Homo sapiens: one gene and its partner. The protein of the gene in region 2 interacts with the protein of the main gene of each other region in a pairwise test. Each region holds a gene or a part of one and is shown on either strand. Other genes may lie near its edges. The genes, in order: SP8 and HEYL.

Region 1 (4,492 bases), on a different chromosome or scaffold from region 2:
CGGCTGCAACGGGTTCAGGCAGCGTTACCCGTGGAAAGGGAAAGCCAGGGCCCGGGACAGCGATGCGTGTTACTTACTTGTCCATATCCCCTTTACAAAGTTAAGTCACAGAAGGAAGAAGGAAGAGGGGCAGAAACAGAAAGAGACAGAGAGCGAGTCGGATGCAATAGGGAAAGGCTGGAGTTGAAGTCCGGACAGACAGGGCCCAAGAGGACTTGGTGGGAGGAGGTCGGGGAGAGGGGCGGGCGCAGGGTGGGCGTCACTCTAGGCCGTTGCGGTGCCCGGGCTCGGGGGGCTGCAGCAGCTCTGGGGAGTGGCAGGGCGGGCTGCCCGCGGCGCTGTGCTCGCTGTCGGTGTCGCTGCCCTTCTTGCCGCCGCTGCCCGAGCCCGCCGAGCCGCCGCCGCCGCCGCCGCCACTGTGCGTCTTCACGTGCTTGCTGAGGTGGTCGCTGCGCATGAAGCGCTTGTTGCAAACTGGACAGGCGAAGCGCTTCTCGCCGGTGTGGGTCCGCAGGTGCCGCTGCAGCTCGTCGGAGCGCGTGAAGCGCTTGCCGCAGAAAAGCCAGTTGCACACGAAGGGCCGCTCGCCCGTGTGCCAGCGCAGGTGCGCCTTGAGGTGCGAAGTCTTGCCGTACACCTTGCCGCAGCCCGGGATGTGGCAGCTGTGCAGGCCCTTGCGCCGCAAGCTCGCCCCGGCAGGGCCCAGCCGCTCTGCCTCCTGGCAGTTGGGGCAGTCGCAGGTGGCGCGGCCGGAGTAGCGGCGAGCTGAGGAGCGCGGGGAGCCCCCCAGCGGCGCCGAAGGCCCAGCGCTCAACATGGAGCCCCCCGCGCCGGCCAGCGGCGACGGGGCCGAGTCCGGGTAGGAGCCGGGTAGCACTGGCTTGAAGCCGTCCATGAGGTGCTGCCCGGCGGGGCTGAGCAGGTGCGAGGAGGCGCCGCTGCTGAAGGCCGAGTGACTCAGGCCCGAGTAATCCGAGTTGTAGCCTCCGAGCGGCGAGTGCAGCGAGGTTTGGAGCCCCCCGGCGGCAGGGTGCAGCGAGCCGGGCAGCGCAGCCGCGCTGTTCGGGTTCTGCACGTCGATCCAGCCGGCCCCCACGTCCCACCAGCTGGAGGCGCCGGCCGAGCCCACCTCGCCCGCAGCACCCAGGCCCGGGTGCGAGGGCTTAAACCACGACTCGTACGGGTGCGCCATGCCCACCCGCGGGTAGATGCCCTGCAGCCCGTCCACAGAGGTGTGCACCTTGGAGATGAACACCGGCTGGTGGGAGCCGTCCTGCGAGTGCGCGGAGGAGCCGCCGCCGCCGCCCCCGCCGCCGCCGCCGCTGCCCCCGGAAACTCCGGGGGCCTGGAAAACAGAGTAGTCGTTGGCGAAGGGCGAGCTGGAGGCGGCGGCTGCGGCGGCGGCGGCGGCGGCTGCGGCGCTGCTGGAGGTGAGGGAGAAGGCGCTGGAGCCAGGCGAGCCGCCGCAGCTGAACGAGTCGGACACCAGGGCCGCGGCAGCCGCGGCTGCTGCCGCGGCCGCCGCAGCCGCCGAGGACGAGCCGCCGTTCCTGGAGGCCCCGGACACGCCGAAGCTTGAGAGACTGGAACCCACTACGTTGCAGCTGGCGGAAGAAGAGGACGAGGAGCGTTTCCAGGGGTGGAAGCCTTTGCCGAAGGAAGAAGAGCTGTCCGAGAGGGAGGAGGGAGACGGGCTGGGGCTGCCTATCTTATTACAGGTAGCGGCAAGCATGGCCAGAGGAGTCGATCCCAACCTCGGTTCTTCCTGCGAGGAGGAGAGGAGAAGGAGTGGGGGAGGGGAGGTGGGCAAAGGGCCGGTGGGGGAGGAAAGGAAGAAATGTGCATCAGTCCTTCGGTAGCCTCCAAAGCGCCCCACTGCACCCCATCTCTCGCTGCGGCGCGCCGCCACCAACTCACCTGGCACCCCCAACAGCCCCGGCGCCCGGCCGCTTCCTACTCTACAGGAGGGGACAAGTTTGGCTGCCGGCGTCTGATTCGGGAGCAAGCACCACGCTAAAGAAGAGTTTGACAAGTATTCTCACCTAAAACAACACTCTCTTGCACACAAAGCCCCAGACACTTCGTAACAAACAAGCAAAAAGTCCAGATTGGAGAGGAAGGAAGTTTTCTTTGCCGAGAAGCCTGGGGGAAAACCATTGGATTGCTTTTAAGAGCGCTTCCCTGTAATCCGGAGAGCTTTGAAAAACCTGTTCGGGTCCCCAGAAACCCATCCTGGGTTGTTTCTCCCAGGCCAAAAGAAATCAAACTGTAGGGCTCACTCTTTCTTCCTGCTTTTCTTTCTTTCTTTTTTTAAAAGCATATCTACAGTAGTAAAAACGAGACGAGTTCAACGTACCTGCGAGACAAGGCGGGCTGCAGAATTTTTTTTTAAGGGTTAGGGGAAGAATCTGCACTTTGCCCAGAAGGAAAAACTTGCTCTCTTTACCCCCGAAATCGGTGCCTGTAAAATGGGCTGGACGCAGGTCTCCCGGGCAGGGAGCAGCGAGGCGCTGCGCGGTGGCTTGTCTAAATGCCCTTCGAACCTTTTCCTGCGCTGAAAAAAAGTGACTCTGCCCCCTTCTCCCCCTTTTTCTTTTCTCCAAACTCACTTGTATTTAAAGAAAAAAAAAAAAAGCTCTCAATAGAGAGACTGATAGCCCGTGGCCTGGCCGGGGCGACTTTAACCCCCTCCAATCGGCAATAAAAGGAAACTAATTAAACCAGCAAGAGAAAATCCTGAGACTCACCCCTAGAAGTGAAGTTGCCATCACACAAAAGTGCCCTCCTCCTCTCAGAGGATCTTTTTTATATTGATAAATCAGAGGCAGTGTTTTTTTTAGAGGTGTGCAATACAATGATCAGTTCCGCCCATTCCACCACAATTGTAGCTCCCTCTCCGGCTTTGAAGTGCCGCGGAGGCGCGGCCAGCCAATCTGCGGCCTCGCCGGGCCGCGCGGCGCGCGCGCCGTGAGGTCATCGGCGCCGCCGCCTGCCGCCGTGGTGGAAGGGGGAGTGGGAGCGGAGGGGGCGGGGGCGGCTGCGTGTGTTACAAAGCGCAAAGCGCGCGCTCGCGTGTATGAGTGTGTGTGTAACAATGTAACTGTGTGCGAGTGTGACCAGGCGTAGGAGAGGACAGTGCGGAGACTGGAGGGAGGGGGGATGGGGGTGTGACACCGTAACAGTGACAGTGTGGTAAAGGCGGGGAGTGGAGAGAGTGCAGAAAAGGGAGGGTTGTGTGATAAGATAACTGCGTGTGCGACAAAGCGGGGTAGAGGGACAGAGCAGTTAAGTGTTGGGAAGGGTGTGAGTGTACGGTAGTGTAACTGACAAACCTAGGGAGGGAAGAGGGACTCAACTGGGTGGGGGGTGAGTGTGTTTGGTGTTGGGGGAGAAGGAGGGCTGTGAACATGTGTATTTGTGCGACAGAGAAGAGGGAAGGGTGTGTGTGGGCGCTTGTGTTGTGTGCGCGCACCAAAGCTGGTAGTGGGGAATGGGAACAATGCAATAAAGTGTGTGTTTGTAAGAGAGAGACTGTCGAGCTGAAGAGAGAAACCGACTAAGTTGATGGAGGCTGAGTGAATAAATATTCACAAACGCTGCCCCTGTCGCCAACTTCCTTTGGCTCCTTGTACCTAAAATCTTGAGTGATTTTTTTTTCTTAACTTGGTAAACAGCGTCACTACATTTTTGAAGAAGATCTTTAAACCCACCTTTTCTTTCCCGGCTCTCCAACGAAATAGTAGAAAGGTTGAGAGGCTAAGGGTTATTTTTAGGGATGCGTTGGGACGTGGATGCGCGCCTGCGCGCCCATGAGTTGTTTCTTTGATGCCGTGGCTTTTTTTTTTTTTTTTTTTTTTTTTTTCCCTGAGGTGGAATTCTGCTTTAGAAGTGCACGTCTCACTCTAGGGGAGGAGGTGTGTGTGTCCCGTGGTGTTGAGTAAATTTCAATACAAAAGGATTAGATAGAGAAGAGAGTAAGCGAGGGTCGTTTTTTCTTTGGGTAAGAAATTGAAGAGCGTTTTACGGAATTTAGAAATTTTCACAGAAAACCTCACTGCCTCTTTCTGAGAAAAGAATCAGGACTTTGATCGAAATATATGGGTTCTATTTATCTAAGAATAGAGAGGAGCTTTTGACAAATCTTGGACATTTATCCAGGCGTCAGTGTCTAATGGCGATTGGGCCAGAGATCTGTCTATGAGTGTGTGTGCATGTTAATAGATACACTTAGTTCAAATTCGGTGGGGTTTAGTCATTTGCTTGCCATTTGTGTTATTAGTTGCCTTCAGAAATGCCATTACAATTTCACTGCCACCACAAGGGAACTTAAACCGCAGAAAGCACAACACCAGTGTAGCAAAAAGTCCAGTCTTTGTAGCCCTATTGAATATTCATAAGTTATAAAAACAGTTCATATTTTTAACCAGTTACAAGTGCTCTCAGAAGTCTAATTTTAAAATGGAATTAACTAAAATGTGACTAGCTGGGCGAA
Region 2 (3,660 bases):
AGCTCTCCTGGAGCTGTTCTGGTCTCAGAGGCTTGGTTCCATTTCTCACCTGAACAGATGAGTCCTGGGAGAGACCCTCAGAGATCCGCCCAGACCCCTCTCCTGCCCTCTGCACACCAGCAGCAGGCATGAACCTTGGGTCTGGGAAAAAGCTTTAACCTGCAGGGCACCAGGACCCAAGGCAGGCTGTTCCTTGGGGCGGTCAGACCCCAGTCAGGAGCAATGACTGACTGGCTGCAGCCTTCCCACGCCAAGAGGCTGGAACATAGTGTCTGCCTCGCTTCCTGGAGATAGTAACTGAGCAGGGGCTACAAAGAGGTCTCCTGGGAACCCTGTCTGCCCCTTCCCACCTGTCCTTGGGCCACACCATCACACTGAACCACAGGACAGACCCTTTCTCCACCACAGCCAAGGCCTGGAGACTGGGGGCCCAGCAGAGCCTGCTCCCACCCTCCTCCCAGCAGCAGACACCCACCCTCTCACTGACTAACAGGTCCCTGCACACAGCTGGCCTGGTAAACCCAGCTGGGAGGTTTCTAGGCAGCAGCAAAACTCTGTGACAGGGTGTCCTCACACCAGGCCTTGGACAGCTCTCCCAGACAGGAGCCAGGGTTGAGCAATGGAGAGCCCAGCCCCCACGTCTTACAGTCGCCATCCTCCAGGCGTGTGGTCCCTCCCCATTGGGTGCACAGTGCAGAGGGGCCGTGGCCCCATGTGATGGTGCGCAGAGAGGAACCTCTTGGGATTCAGCACCAGACGTCTGTGCTGCCTGGTTTGCATCCGGCTCACAGAGCCCAGACTGCTGGAACAGCCAAGGACTGTCAGGCTGGACAAAAATAACTGCAAGGAGGGGCAAGAGAAAGGATGATTCGAGGCACCTTGGCCCTTCAAGGTCATGCAGTGGGTCGAGCGCCTGAGATCCTGTTCACCAGGACTCCACAGAGCTGGCTCTGCTCAGAAGCCATTTCATTCCCCGGCTCCACCCTAGGCCACTTTTTCTAACAGAGGAAACAAATGGTCCAGCAGTCGTTCCCAGCAGAACAGCGGAGCCTGGACTGACACCCAGTGGGACCAGTGTTGCCACACCAGTTGATAAAATGCAGAAACCCTTCTGTACTCGTTGGTAAATATCTACTCCCCCAAGTGACTCCAGGTGCCCCCCACCGCCTGGCACTTCCCCCAGGACTCCTACGATCTGGTTACTGCCTGGCCGATCCAAGGCTGTGGAGTCCCAGAGCCAGCAGTTCACTGGTGCTCATTCCACACTGGTTAGATACTTCAGTTGTCACCCCTGGGAAGATTCTCCCACCTCCTCCCTTTGATGGAACCACCCTCCCCAGAGGCTGCATTGAGGAGACTCCACAGACTGAAAAGTGAGTTTGCAGAAACCTTGGGGAAAAGGGCCCTTTCAAAGAAGTGGATAAGAGGGAGGAGATCATTGAGTGACCCAGAAAGCTCTTTTGAAAAGACAGACTCCTCAAGGAGAGATAAAGAGGAAAGCACCTCTTTCATTTTTTAGTGTGAGCTAATTCCATCAGACTGCTGTCCTCCTGGACCCATCTGAGATGTGCAGTAGCAAGGAGAGGGGGGATCATTTTAGAGAGTGGGTCATTGGCAGGGAGTGCTCCGGAGGGAGGCAGAGGGGAGACTGTGGTAGAAGGAAGACAGAACTCACACATGCTCCCAGGATTGGGGACAGGGACAGAGGAGGTAACAGAAGGCAAAGGCCAGTTTCCCCGTTATCATGAAGGGGCCCACTCAGGACAGGAACAAGGACAACTCCTCCTCCTCCTCCTCCTCTCCTGCTGCTCCTGGGATACCAGGTCAGTGATGTAGTCTTGCAGTTTGGCAACTTCCTAGCCTGAGAATCCCTAGTGGGGCTGTGGGAAACACATTTCCACGTTGCAAGCATGCAACTCCAAAGAATCTGTGATGCCACTGAAATGAGATGGGAATGATCCAGCTCTTTCAGCATCTTGGTTGAACTTGCTTTCATTGTCCCTGGGATATTGTGGAAGGAAAGGTGACTGTGTGATCTGATTCTGTGGTCAAGGACTTGCATCTTGTGTTTCTATCCCCAAGCCTTCCTGGTGTCTCCAACTCCTACCCCATTGCATGGGTTGTTGCGGACATCCAATAAAGATTTTTTTAGTGCTTCTGGAAACTTCCAGTAGATTCTACTTCTAAACTATCTCTGGAGTCCATCCACTTCTGTCTGCACCCACAGCCATCCTGGCCAGGCCACATCACCTCCCCCAGATCACTGCCCTGGCCTCAGAAAGGTCTTCCCTCTTGCTTTGTCAATCAGTTCTCAGTAGCAGCAGAGAGAAATTGAAAGCTGCAGGTCATATCGTATCATCTTTAGTTTGAAAACCTCACTCTCTTACCCTATTGTTCTAAAGGTCTTCTTTTGGTCCCAACCTCATTTCCAGCCTCATTTCTTGCCAGTCCCAGACTTGCTCCCTGAGCTTCTGCCACCTGCCCTTCCTTCATTTCCTCGACATTCCAGCCTTGTTCCCACCTCCAGCACTTTGCATATGCTGTTCCCTTTGCCAAGAATGCTCTTCCCCTACCCTGTGCATGGCTGAGTTCTGCAGACCCTCAGGCCTTGGCTTCAACGTTGCCTCGTCCAAGAGGCCTTCCTCGACTACTTTACTTGTGGAGTTCCTCTATCACAAGGCCTCTGTTCTTTCCCTTCATGGAGAATTTGCCACTGCATATCCATTTGTGTAATTTACTTGTTGGTTGACTGTGCCTCCCACTCGAGTGTAAGCTCATGAGGCCAGGTGCCATGCCTGGTTCAGTCTCCACTCTGTACCCAGCATTGAGCACAGGGCCTGGTCCATAGTTGGCGTTCAATAAATACTTGTTGAAGAAGTGAACTGAGAAGGTGAGATATCTTCTGGACTCATGCCGTGGATGGTCCAGGCCCCTTTAGGTGTGAACCCCCTGCTGGCCAACTTTGCGGGGAGGCTGCAGAGCAGAGGGAGAGCCAGGGCCAAGGGACTGGAAGTTCTGGCAAGTGGCCAGGAGGCCCTGGCCAAAGGCAAGTGCGAGTGTCCACTCCGAGTGCACACTGACAGCTGGGAGCAGGCAGGCTGTCCTGCCAGCAGGCATTGCTCTCCACCCTTGGCTTGGCTCTGTGATGGATTTGGCTCGCAACAAATCCAACGAACACAGAGGTCTGCTCTGTGCCAGCCAGGCACAGTGGAGCCAGAGCTGGGAAGGACACAGTTGCTTTGAGTGGGGGGCACACCCTCCATCAGGATGATAGTTTGGTGAGATGAGAGTAGGGAGGTTTGTTAGGAAGGCTGAAGGGAGCAGAGTTGGGGTATGTGGCCCTGCCCGGGGTGTCAAGCGGGTAGGGGGCTCTGGGAGGAAGCTTTCCAGGAGGAGAAGGAAGGGAACCATTCTATGTGCAAAGACCTGGAGACCTCATCAAGGAGAGCTGTAGACGTTGGCTCTGAGTTGAGCACGGGCCCTCAGTGACAGGGTGAGAGGTGGGCTAGCCTGGGCACTGAAGCCAGACTTCTTTATTAATGAGTTGTATGTAGTCTTGGGCAAGTTACTGAACCTCCCTTATCCTCAACTTTCTCATCAATAAAGCGGGGAAGATGCAGTAATGGCTACTATTGGTTGAGTGATAACTGTGTACCAGAC

What was found.
Region 1: the proteins of HEYL (region 2) and SP8 interact in a two-hybrid assay, tested with the Homo sapiens proteins (one large-scale study listed by BioGRID and IntAct).

What each region holds. Positions count from the first base shown.
Region 1 is NC_000007.14:20,784,031-20,788,522, forward strand, and holds the start of SP8 (transcription factor Sp8), read right to left. Parts: upstream 2,857-4,492; 5' UTR 2,769-2,856; coding exon 2,748-2,768; intron 2,014-2,747; exon of another isoform or gene 1,918-2,013; intron 1,766-1,917; coding exon 260-1,765; 3' UTR 1-259. UniProt on the Homo sapiens protein: Transcription factor which plays a key role in limb development. Positively regulates FGF8 expression in the apical ectodermal ridge (AER) and contributes to limb outgrowth in embryos.
Region 2 is NC_000001.11:39,622,657-39,626,316, reverse strand, and holds the end of HEYL (hairy/enhancer-of-split related with YRPW motif-like protein), read left to right. Parts: 3' UTR 1-2,882; downstream 2,883-3,660. UniProt on the Homo sapiens protein: Downstream effector of Notch signaling which may be required for cardiovascular development. Transcriptional repressor which binds preferentially to the canonical E box sequence 5'-CACGTG-3'.